3 linked regions of the Homo sapiens genome follow. Each later gene encodes a partner of the first gene's protein in a complex. Each region holds a gene or a part of one and is shown in the gene's direction. Other genes may lie near its edges. The genes, in order: EXOSC8, EXOSC3 and EXOSC1.

Region 1 (3,748 bases):
TCTCTCGCTCACCCTGCGTCCCTAGTGGGTCTCATCGATCCACGCATTTATTCCCATTTGTAACAGATGGCTGCCGTCAAGGCTCCGTCACCCCTATTTGCTTAACCACATCAGCCAAGGGAGCAGGCTAGGGAGCACACCCCTTCTGGGGGCTCGAGACCTCCCTGGGTGGAGCAGAACTGCAGCGGCTGCAGGTCCCGGAGAGTCTGGGAGAGGTCGAGGTTGACAGAGGAGGTGGGTAGGGGGCGCGGGCGCCAGGGGCGATGGAAGCGGCGATGATGCCAGGCCGGGTGGGTGCGCTCCAGTGTGAAAAAACTTACAAGTCTCTGAGCACACAAAGAGATAAGATTCCAAGGGAAAATTAAAGAACCGAAGAAAAGGAGAGTGAAACTCCAGGAAACTCCGAGGTCAGGAATTTGGGGGAATCTAGGGGAAAAGGGACTTCTCCGAGAACTGGTAGCGCGGAGGAGGGGACGCCTGAGGAGCCGCAGTCTCCAGGAGAGCGGTAAGCCCCGGCCTGCGCGGGTTCCCATCCCTGTTCTCACCAGTACGAGGGCTGCGGCCGCCAGCGCCGCGCCGAGCACCGCCAGCTGCAACAGAAGCGGAGCCATTCTCCATGCCGTGGCAGCCCGCCCAATCCCGCACCTCCACACAGGCGGAAGCGCGCCCGCGCGACCCGGCCCCGCCGCCAGAGAGGTCGCGCCCGCTGGCCGCAGCGCCCCCGCGTGGCGAGGCGGAGAAAACGCCGCTCTCGTGCCCTCGGCGCCCAGTCGGTGGAGAGGAGCGCTAGGTTCCACAGCGGGGCGCCAGGTTTATCAAGTATGCAAGACGTCTACTTAATTTGAATTTCAGATTAAAAAACTAATCATGTTTTTAACAGCCTTATTAAGATAGCCACATACCATACGACTCATCCAGTTACAGGTTTCTGGTTTATTACATTAGTTTTTATAAACTGTGGTAAAATAAAAAGTTGCCATTTTAATCATTTTAAGTTTACAATAGTGAGTGGCATTAATTACATACATACTGTGCAACCATCACCACTATCTATCTGTAAAGCCTTCCCAGCTCCCTCCAGGTTCTGGCAACAACTAATTGCATGCTCTATTTGGGGCATACTCATGCTTTAAAAAAAAAAAAACCCACAAAAAAACAAAAACAAAAAACAAAAAAACCACGCTGTGTTTATCAGACATTCAAATTTAACGTGGTATCCTGTATTTTATCTGGTAACCCCACCTAGGAGGGAGATGGCAGCCTTGAGCACGACACAGTCTACAACACAAGGTGATGCTTAGGAGCCCTCAGCTCCGGGACCTGCAGAGCAGAACGTGGTGCGGACAATGAGCGCACAGAAAGTTCAGGTTTCTCGGCCGAGCGCCGTGGCTCACGCCTGTAATCCCAGCACTTTGGGAGGACGAGGCGGGCGGATCACAAGGTCAGGAGATCGAGACCATCCTGGCTAACACGGTGAAACCCCGTCTGTACTAAAAATACAAAAAATTAGCGGGGCGCGGTGGCGGGCGTCTGTAGTTCCAGCTACTCGGGAGGCTGAGGCAGGAGAATGGCGTGAACCCGGGAGGCGGAGCTTGCAGTGAGCCGAGATCGCGCCACTGCACTCCAGCCTGGACGACAGAGCGAGACTCTGTCTCAAAAAAAAAAAAAAAAAAAGTTCAGGTTTCTCATGTGTTGGAGCACGGAGCCCTTGACCAGTGAAGAGGCAAGGCCAGGGCTGAGCCTAAGTCACAGGCAGAAAAAAGACGCAGAAACATTGGAATAACGCTCCACACGCACTGCTTGATTCTGCGCTAGAAACCCTGTTATCTCCGAACTGTTGGTGTTATTCTGAGTCACAGCACCAGCTCTTTTATAAAGAGGGAGACCCGCTCCTTCTTTAACAGCAGATTCGTCAAAATACGTCCAAGGCAAGGAAACCTAGAAAGGCGTCTGGGCAGGGGAAAGTCGATGCGAGGGCGGGCCAGGGACCTTTCGTCGCGTCCCCACCTTGGCATTTCCCGTGGCGTGAGCGGCCCCGGCATCCGTGTCGAAAGTGCGGCGGCGGAACAGGCGCGCAGGAGAGGAGCGGCGCAGGCGCAGACGCGCGGGCGGGAAGATGGCGGCTGGGTTCAAGTGAGTGTTGGCGGGTGGCGGGTAGAGTTCTGTACCCTGGCGGACGGCAGCTTCCTTTAACTCTTAGCTGGGATTCTCTCACCTGGAGGCCGACCCCGTTGGGGTGCCATTTCCTTCCTCGTCGAGGCAGACGATGGGCGGGAGGACCTGGAGGTTGTCACAGTGAAAAGAAAGGGCTTCTTCCTCAGTGAGACGGGAGATGAAAGGACTCTGTAGAGTTCCATACCCGCTGCGAGCGCTCGTGAGCGTGGTGTGTAGTGAACGTGCAGTCCCAGGAGACATAGTTGTAATCTTTTAAAGATTGTGGCCGGGCGCGGCGGTTCACGCCTGTAATCCCAGCACTTTGGAGGACGAGGCGGGCGGATCACCTGACGTCAGGAGTTCGAGACCAGCCTGGTGTACATGGTGAAACACTGTCTCTAATAAAAATATAAAAATTAGCCGGGCGTGGTGGCGGGCGCCTGTAGTCCCAGCTACTCAGGAGGCTGAGGCAGGAGAATCGCTTGAACCCGGGAGGCAGAGGTTGTAGTGAGCCGAGATCGCGCCACTGCACTCCAGCCTGGGCGACAGAGTGAGACTCTGTCAGAATCAATCAATCAAGATTGTTGCATCAGAACCACATACCGCCTGCTTCTCCCTCTCCCGTAATTTATTTCTAAAAGGATCATGCCTCGTTTGGAAGGTTTTTGTGTGTGTGAAGCCAGTGGACTTTCTTAAAGTTTTTAAAAAATGGATAAAATAAATAGGATTCCAAAGGAAATCCATTATGTTGAAATAGTTATCTATGAGTATAAACTCCGAAGACACGATATAGTAGTATATATACTTGGTTTAAAATTAACCTTCGTAAACAAGATCTAGTGGCGAGACTAGTAGTAACTCCTGGGATTTCAAAGTAACGGTGAGCCTGAACATACCTTACACAGCTAAAGGGTGCAAACGAAAACATCTGTGGTCTCCGTGGTTGTTAAAGTTGCAGGTACTGCTAATGTTACTATGGCTTATTGCTTACAGTCATAATTGAAGAATATGCTAAATTTCACTTACAGTGAAAATAAAGATGTACCTTTTTGTTTCCTGAGTTATCTAGTAAGAGGTTAACTATTCATGATCACTAGATTATTAAAATAATCTTTTTTCATGATCACTAGATCACTCTGAATCCTTGTTTCAGAGCAAGAACGACATGATTCTTTTGACACAGATTGAGCTTTTAAAGAGCTCACTCAAAGGGCTTTTAGACGCCAATCTTCTAATCGTTTATGGCAGAGTTAAGGACAGCAATTGAATGTGATTGCTACTACAAGGATTTTTACTTTCTAGAATTACTTTTAGTTAAAAAGTTGTGGAGATTTATGCTGCATCACCACACTTAAGATCTTTGCCAATTTCTGGATTTATGTTAAGATTCATCAGTTTATCTCAGATATATTTTTAACACGTGTTTCAGAACCGTGGAACCTCTGGAGTATTACAGGAGATTTCTGGTGAGTAAAGGTTATGTACATGTTATGCGTTTTGATAACGAGCTGCTTTTAAAGATGAATTTCAAGTAATTTAAATTAATCCATTTGAAGTAACATTTAATGTGTGTGTAAAACTTGTGATAGATGTG
Region 2 (3,748 bases), on another chromosome or scaffold:
GAGGGTGTGTTAGAGATGATCTGTCTTAATCATCCTAAAAAATCTAAAAATTCGGCCGGGCTTGGTGGCTCATGCCTGTAATCCCAGTACTTTGGGAGGCCAAAGTGGGCCTATCGCTTGAGGTCAGGCGTTCAAGACCAGCCTGGCCAGCATGGTGAAACGCTGTCTCTACTAAAAATACAAAAATTAGCCAGGTGCGGTGGTGCACTCCTGTAATCCTAGCTACTCGGGAGCCTGAGGCAGGAGAATTGCTTGAACCTGGGAGGCGGAGGTTGCAGTGAGCCGAGATGGTGCCACTGTAGTCCAGCCTGGGCGACAGAGCGAGACTCCGTCTAAAAAAAAAAATCTAAAAATTACGTTGGAAGCAGGTGCCTCAAAGAGATGAGCAGTAGAAAGGGAGGGCCGCTAAAGGCAATCGGTCAGTCACGGCCTCCCAGACCCTAGGAATTCTACCACTGCTGGAGAATCTGATCAAGCACTAATTGAAGGTTCGAGTTGACAGAGAAAACGGTGATTTAAAATAGAACCCCCAAAGTCAGATAGATGATTGGAATCTCTTTGGGTTTGGAATTCAACTGCTTCTCACGTGCGCAACTAAGTGTGCTCCAGGGAAATTTGAGTTACTGATATTCCAGGCCATGTAGGGCTATCGGAAGCATGTGAAATATGTATATTTGCAGGGGGAAAAAGTCTAGGGAGAAATACACACCAAAGGAATACATTCGTTCATTCATCAGGTATTACCTATTTCATGCCACACCTTGGGCTCTAAAGAATCAGAACTACAGTGTAGCAAGGGAGAAAAACGGGCAAGATTAAAACATCGTTTATTTTCTTCTTTTATTTTTCTCTGTGTTTTCTAAATGTGACTAGATCTCTAACAACCAAGAAGGTTTTATTTATTTTGAAAAAAACTACTTTTCCTGTTAAAAGGTCAGCCACTCTTCTGAGGGCGGAGTCGGAAAGAAGGTCCCATGAACCCACCTAGCGTCCAATTTCCCTTTTTTTTTTTTTTTTGACAGGGTCTCACTCTGTCCTCCAGACTGGAGTGCAGTGGCACCATCTAGGCTCACTGTAACCTCCGCCTCCTAGGTTCAAGTGATTCTCCTGTCTCAGCCTTCCGAGTAGCTGGGATTACACGTGCGTGCCACCACGCCCGGCTAATTTTTGTATTTTTAGTAGAGACAGGGTTTCACCATGGTGGCCAGGCTGGTCTTGAACTCCTGACCTCAAATGATCCACCCGCCTCGGCCTCCCAAACTTCTGGGATTACAGGCGTGAGCCACCGCGCCCGGCCCCAGCGTCCAATTTTCAAAGCCCCTCTGCTCAGCTTCCAGAGATCCCAAGAAACTCTTAAGTGGAAGTATCTCGTATCCCCACGATGCGACCGGTCACAAAACACGCGACCCGAGACACTGGAAGTGGAGGCTTTTCGATGGACCAAGCTGCGCGGTTTTCATACCGACCCGCGGCCAGGCTGTCAGATAGGTGGCCGGCCACAATCACTGCCACCTTGGACAGGGACCCGTGAGCTGACGGCCATCAAGCTTCATAAACTGGTCCGAATCCAACGGACCGCTACTGCCGGAAACGGAAAGTCCTCAAGGGCGGGTGTTGGAAGCGGAGCGGAAGCGGAAGGCGGGTACCGGAAACGGTGTTTGGTGGAGCCCGCGATGGCCGAACCTGCGTCTGTCGCGGCTGAATCTCTCGCGGGCAGCAGGGCGCGCGCTGCACGCACAGTACTAGGTCAGGTGGTGCTCCCGGGTGAGGAGCTGCTCCTGCCGGAACAGGAGGACGCGGAAGGCCCTGGGGGTGCAGTGGAGCGACCGTTGAGCCTGAATGCTAGAGCGTGCTCGCGGGTGCGCGTTGTATGCGGTCCGGGCCTTCGGCGCTGTGGGGACCGCCTGCTGGTCACCAAGTGCGGCCGCCTCCGTCACAAGGAGCCCGGCAGTGGCAGCGGCGGCGGTGTTTACTGGGTGGACTCTCAGCAGAAGCGGGTGAGCTGGGACTCCGGAGGGGTGGTGCGGCAGTGAGAGTGGTAGCCCTGCTTTGAGAAGACCTCCCAAAAGAAGAGAGGGACCCTGAGGCCCTCTTTTGTTCAGGCAAACCTAGAGCCACCGTAGTCTTGTGCCCACTTCTGCATGTCCTTTAGAGGGACCGTGAACAATAGGAACATAGCCTGAGAAGGGCGACCAGGAGAGAAAAACGTTTGGAGACCGTGAGTCATGATTATAGTCTTCAAAACCCCACAGCAGGCCTGCCGTTTGGAGTCTCAGAGGGCAGGACTAGGCTCAATGAGTGGATGTCATAGGGAGTTAATTTCTCCTAGAACAGGTAAGAATTTCATATAGAAAAAATTGTCTATGGAATGGGCTTCCTTGGTTGTAAGGATTCCTTTGCCACTGGACTTATGCCACAAAGCTAGAGACTTACTGGTTGGGGTGCCTAAGAGATAATGGAGTTTGGACTCAATTAACAGACTACCAGAAGCTGCACACCCGGCACTTTATGAAGTGATTTTCTTTTACCGAAAGTGGCATTTGATCAGATTTCTCTTTAATGACAATAAAGTAACCACAAAGGACTTGCTGAAGGTATCTTCCAATGGTATCTTGTCATTTATGGCTGTTTTTTCATTCTGTTTCTTTTTGTAGTATGTTCCAGTAAAAGGAGACCATGTGATTGGCATAGTGACAGCTAAATCTGGAGATATATTCAAAGTTGATGTTGGAGGGAGTGAGCCAGCTTCTTTGTCTTACTTGTCATTTGAAGGTGCAACTAAAAGAAACAGACCAAATGTGCAGGTAATTACGGGAGCCTTTGGTTTCAAAGAAACAAACATCCATTCCCTAGAACACTCACATATCCAGAAGGCTATCTGAATTGTCTCCAAAGCATGACCTAGATCTCTGAGCTTGTATATAATTGCCCCAGGCTCCAAGAGTTTCTTCAGATGCTCCAGGATCAGAGCCACATAATTATTATTATTATTTTTTACATTTACAATTTATTTTACATTGGCTACATTTGTTCTTGGGATGTTTCATTTCTACTGAGTTGAAAGGTTGTATCTATCATCGCCATTATTTGTTATGTCCATATCCTCTGGACAAGGATGTCTGCTGTAGGCTTAGAGGAGGGACAGGTGGTGCAAATTGACATTATCAGCTATCCATCCATCCTGGCTGTAGGTCCTAGGAGCTGATAGAGGAGTAATATTGTTACCTTGGGTTTTCAATTTGAGCTTTTCAGGTAGCATAGCCACACTCTTCTTGTCTATCCAGCCTGAAATTTAGTGATTTCTTCACCTCTTCTCATTCACTTCTCATGCAAATTTAGTTGCTTAATCCTATTTTGATCCTATTTGATTCTGTCTCTGATCTTTGGCATGTCCGTCCCTTTATCTCCACAAGTTCAGGCTTCAGCTCCCTCTTGACTGGTCTCAGTCACTTCTTCATTAATCCCTGCCTCCACGCTTTTACCTCACCATCCAGGATTTTGAGAGCTGACATCCTCACACGGTCACTTTCTCGAAAAGACAAGATTCTCCAAAATCTACAGAATTCCTTGGCATTACACTCCAGGTGTCTTTCCTCATCCCTAATTATATCCTTCATACAGCCATACTCAAATCACACCAAACGCCATTAAACTCAATTTCCTGCCCTTATTTGCACATGCTGTTCCCACTGTCTTGATTGCACTATCCCTTCGCACCCTATGGAACACATTCTCATTCTTTGAGACG
Region 3 (3,748 bases), on another chromosome or scaffold:
CCTGGCCAGATGTCTATCTGTCCTACAAATACCAGCAAGGACACTCCTGCCAATGTGGTAACACTAAATAAGTGTCTGCTGTTATCATTCTTCCTGATTCATAAAGAGAGAAATACAAACTGTTATTAAAATCATGGCACTTAGGAGCTAGAAGTCGTTTTTGAAAACAAGCCCAACCAGAAATCAGCCCAACCGTGTAAACAGAAAGCTCCTAGACGCACAGATACAGATTTGGGTGAACAAAGTCTGAGGCTAGGGCCTCTCTCCATTAGCTAATGGGGTATGGGATGCCAGGAAAATTACATATGTAGTAAGTGGGCCGCAACTGAACACACAGACTTTTCTTTTTTTTTTTTTTTGAGATGGAGTTTCACTCTTGTTGCCCAGGCTGGAGTGCAATGGCACAATCTGGGCTCACCACAACCTCCGCCTCCTGGGTTCAAGCAATTCTCCTGCCTCAGCCTCCTGAGTGGCTGGGATTCCAGGCATGTGCCACCACGCCTGGCTAATTTTGTATTTTTTTAGTAGAGACCGGGTTTCTCCATGTTGGTCAGGCTGGTCTCAAACTCCCGACCTCAGGTGATGTGCTTGCCTCAGCCTCCCAAAGTGCTGGGATTGCAGGCGTGAGCCACCGCACCTGGCCCAGACTTTTCATCTCAAGAAATAGAAGTAAAGCAAAATTCAAAAAGATGTGTGTAGGGGAGAAGGGGCTAATCTCAGTGAACGGGAGGAAACAGAGCAAAGCGCAGCTTTACTACCACCCCAAGCACAAGCCCGAGTACTCTGATCCTTCAGTAATAGTCACAGGCCATACTGGTCATCTGCCACCAGACTGGAGGAGATTGCTGGCCACAACACTCCCCTCTTCCCATGGCTTTAAGTCACATCTGTTTCCCAATGGGAAAGTCGACTGAGGGGACAGGGAAGGACAGACGGCAAAGCCATCAGAAGTCAGGTGAACTGAGATCAAAGTCGTGGCGAATGTCATCTGGACAAAGACGCTGCTCTCAGGATGTTTGCAATCTCAAGTAGGAGATACCCAACATCAATAAAGAGTAGCATTTTATTCATGTGCAGACCTCCCTTCTGGGCTAACACGCTGAGAAGAAAAAGAGTAACAACTTTATTTTGGGGCTGCTTATCTTTTGATGACGGGCCCACACAACCAGAGTTCGGCTTTTTCAACCAGAGAAAGCTTACTGAAGTGGGGATGAGGGGCCGCGAAGAGGATCGGACCGCAGGACTGGAAGCTGCAGTTTAAAAAACCGGGAAAAGGCCGGAGGCAGTGGCTCATGCCTGTACTCCCTGCACTTTGGAAGGCCGAGGCGGGCGGATCAAGAGATCAAGACCATCCTGGCTAACATGGTGAAACCCCGTCACTACTAAAACTACAAAAATTAGCTGGGCGTGGTGGCGCGCGCCTGTAAGTCCCAGCTGCGCGGGAGGCTGAGGCAGGAGAATCGCTTGATGCCGGGAGGCGGAGGTTGCAGTGAACAGAGATCGCTCCACTGCACTCCAGCCTGGCGACAGAGCGAGACTCCTCAAAAACAAAACAAAAAAACCGGGAAAAGGTTTTATTTCTCAATGACAGCCGCGAGGTGAAACTGCGATGGACTGGAAGTCAAAAACCGTGGGTTCCAGTTTGGGCTCTATCTTAACTATCTTGATCATTTTGGACAAGTCAAACCCTGTCTCTGAATCTGAGGTTCCATATCTGTGAAACAGACGAGTTGGGTCGCTTGACCTCCTTCCCTCCTGCTCTGAGCGTAACGATTGCTCGGAAGGTGCGCTCGGGCTGAGGAGGGCACGGCCCCGCAGGGCGGGGCGAGGAGAGAGCAGGAACCCGCACTCAAGACAAGGCCCCAGGGCAGTGCCCTACCCAGAAAAAGGGACTAGGATGGGGAGCAAGGGCCGAGGCTTCGCCCTTACCTGCCGCCTGCCGACTCCCCAGTCAGCCAAACCGAGCCCCGTAGCCTCTGCCGCCGCTCACTGCCACCCCCTCCGACTCGGCGCCCCGGCCGGGCCCGGCTCAATCCAAACCACCATGGCCCGCCGCCCGCAGCGCCAGGCAGCGGACCCGGACCCGCCGCCAGCCCATCCTCAACCACACGCGCAGGCGCCAGCGTGGACCTCTGAAGTTCCGCCCCCGGATTTGTCCCGGGGTAACCTGGGAAATGGAGTTTACTCGCAAGGATAAAGAGTACCAATTGACACGTGTCTTACTGCGGAACTGTGCCTGGGTTTGGCCAATGAGAAATCGACTTCGTTTTCATCCTGGTTTTGGGACAGCGGCAATCATGGCGCCACCTGTGAGATACTGCATCCCCGGTAAGTGAGCGCTTCCCGTACAGAGTCCTGGATAGGGGCTGAAGCAAGAAGGCTAAACGGCCTACAGCTTCTGGGGGCCCGTGACCGATGCAGCATTTTTTCTGCAGGCGAACGTCTGTGTAACTTGGAGGAGGGCAGCCCGGGCAGCGGCACCTACACCCGCCACGGCTACATCTTTTCGTCGCTTGCCGGCTGTCTGATGAAGAGCAGCGAGAATGGCGCGGTAAAGGAAGCGGCATGCCATCTCCCCTCTGTTTTTCCCTTAGGCTGCCCTTGAGTTCCAGTCCTTAGGCATGGGCACTGCGGACGCGTCTTTAGTGCCTCAGTGGTACAATGTTGGTCTCTTAGTTTCTTCTAGCCGTATCGCCGCTGTGGTGCACTTAGCCACCACACACTAGTTGTGTTGATCTCGCTTGGTTGTGCTGCTGACCCTCGGGGAGGGAAGTTGGGACAAAAGCAGATGCGAACTCAGTATCCCATCCCAGCCCAGCTCAGCCCAGCAGTGAGTTGCATACTGTATGAATGTTGCTTACCTTTCCGACTTTATCTAGCGCCACTATCTCCACCTCACTGACGCAATCTAGTCATACTGTCTTTTCTGTGTTTAAAAGTTATAATCACAGTCTCTGCTTGCCCTTTAAAAATTTTTTATAACATACTAGCTTCTTTCAGTGTCGGTAATGCGCCAAGCTTTCTCCTGCTACAGAGCCTTTGTAACATGCCATCTATCTGGAACGCTTCTATCTTCCTAGGCCTATTTAATTCCTACCTCCTTTAGATAGCTTCTCTACTATCACCTCAGAGAAGTCCTTCTGGACCCACTAATTGAGGAAAGGAGTTTTGTGGGGTGTTTTGTTTTTGTTTGTTTTGTTAAAGACTCACAAAAAACTCTGTTCCTTTTCTTCCAAGCACTATGTCAGCATATGATGAGACACTCAGGTATATGTTTCCTACTAGACTTCTCCCCTGCTTAAATCTAAGTCCGTGAAAGCAGGCCCTACCACCATACCATCCGTATATAGCACAAGGCAGCTCCTCAATAAATGTTGAATGTGTGAGTAATACCTACCTTTCTAGTTTCAGAGATAGATCCAGGATTAGCTCAGGATCATATAAGCAATATTTGAAGGAGCACAATAGAAAGAGGATTCAGAATTAGAACAGTTACGTTCTGGCTAACTTGACTTTGATTCTGCTTTGAGTAAGTAACTTAAGCTGTCTGATTCAAGGGGCTTTCTATTCAGTCATTGTTGGGAATGTTCTTAACAGTCCTGAGTTTGTTCATTTCATAGATATCACTTGAGTATTTTCATGTGTCAGGCACAGCGCTGACTTGGTTTCTGCTATCAAAGGACACAGACACAAATTGTAAACAAATAAATGCTCAAATGAGCATATGGTTACATATGTGGTGGTGCTT

What was found.
Region 2: EXOSC8 (region 1) and EXOSC3 share a complex: the UniProt entries of both Homo sapiens proteins name them as parts of the RNA exosome core complex.
Region 3: EXOSC8 (region 1) and EXOSC1 share a complex: the UniProt entries of both Homo sapiens proteins name them as parts of the RNA exosome core complex.

The regions. Positions count from the first base shown.
Region 1 is NC_000013.11:36,998,690-37,002,437, forward strand, and holds the start of EXOSC8 (exosome complex component RRP43), read left to right. Parts: upstream 1-2,096; 5' UTR 2,097-2,116; coding exon 2,117-2,133; intron 2,134-3,583; coding exon 3,584-3,620; intron 3,621-3,748. Other genes in the region: ALG5 (dolichyl-phosphate beta-glucosyltransferase), read right to left, coding at 546-611. UniProt on the Homo sapiens protein: Non-catalytic component of the RNA exosome complex which has 3'->5' exoribonuclease activity and participates in a multitude of cellular RNA processing and degradation events.
Region 2 is NC_000009.12:37,782,970-37,786,717, reverse strand, and holds the start of EXOSC3 (exosome complex component RRP40), read left to right. Parts: upstream 1-1,653; 5' UTR 1,654-1,673; coding exon 1,674-1,997; intron 1,998-2,654; coding exon 2,655-2,804; intron 2,805-3,748. UniProt on the Homo sapiens protein: Non-catalytic component of the RNA exosome complex which has 3'->5' exoribonuclease activity and participates in a multitude of cellular RNA processing and degradation events.
Region 3 is NC_000010.11:97,444,535-97,448,282, reverse strand, and holds the start of EXOSC1 (exosome complex component CSL4), read left to right. Parts: upstream 1-2,276; 5' UTR 2,277-2,297; coding exon 2,298-2,328; intron 2,329-2,435; coding exon 2,436-2,551; exon of another isoform or gene 2,552-2,788; coding exon of another isoform or gene 2,789-2,830; intron 2,831-3,748. UniProt on the Homo sapiens protein: Non-catalytic component of the RNA exosome complex which has 3'->5' exoribonuclease activity and participates in a multitude of cellular RNA processing and degradation events.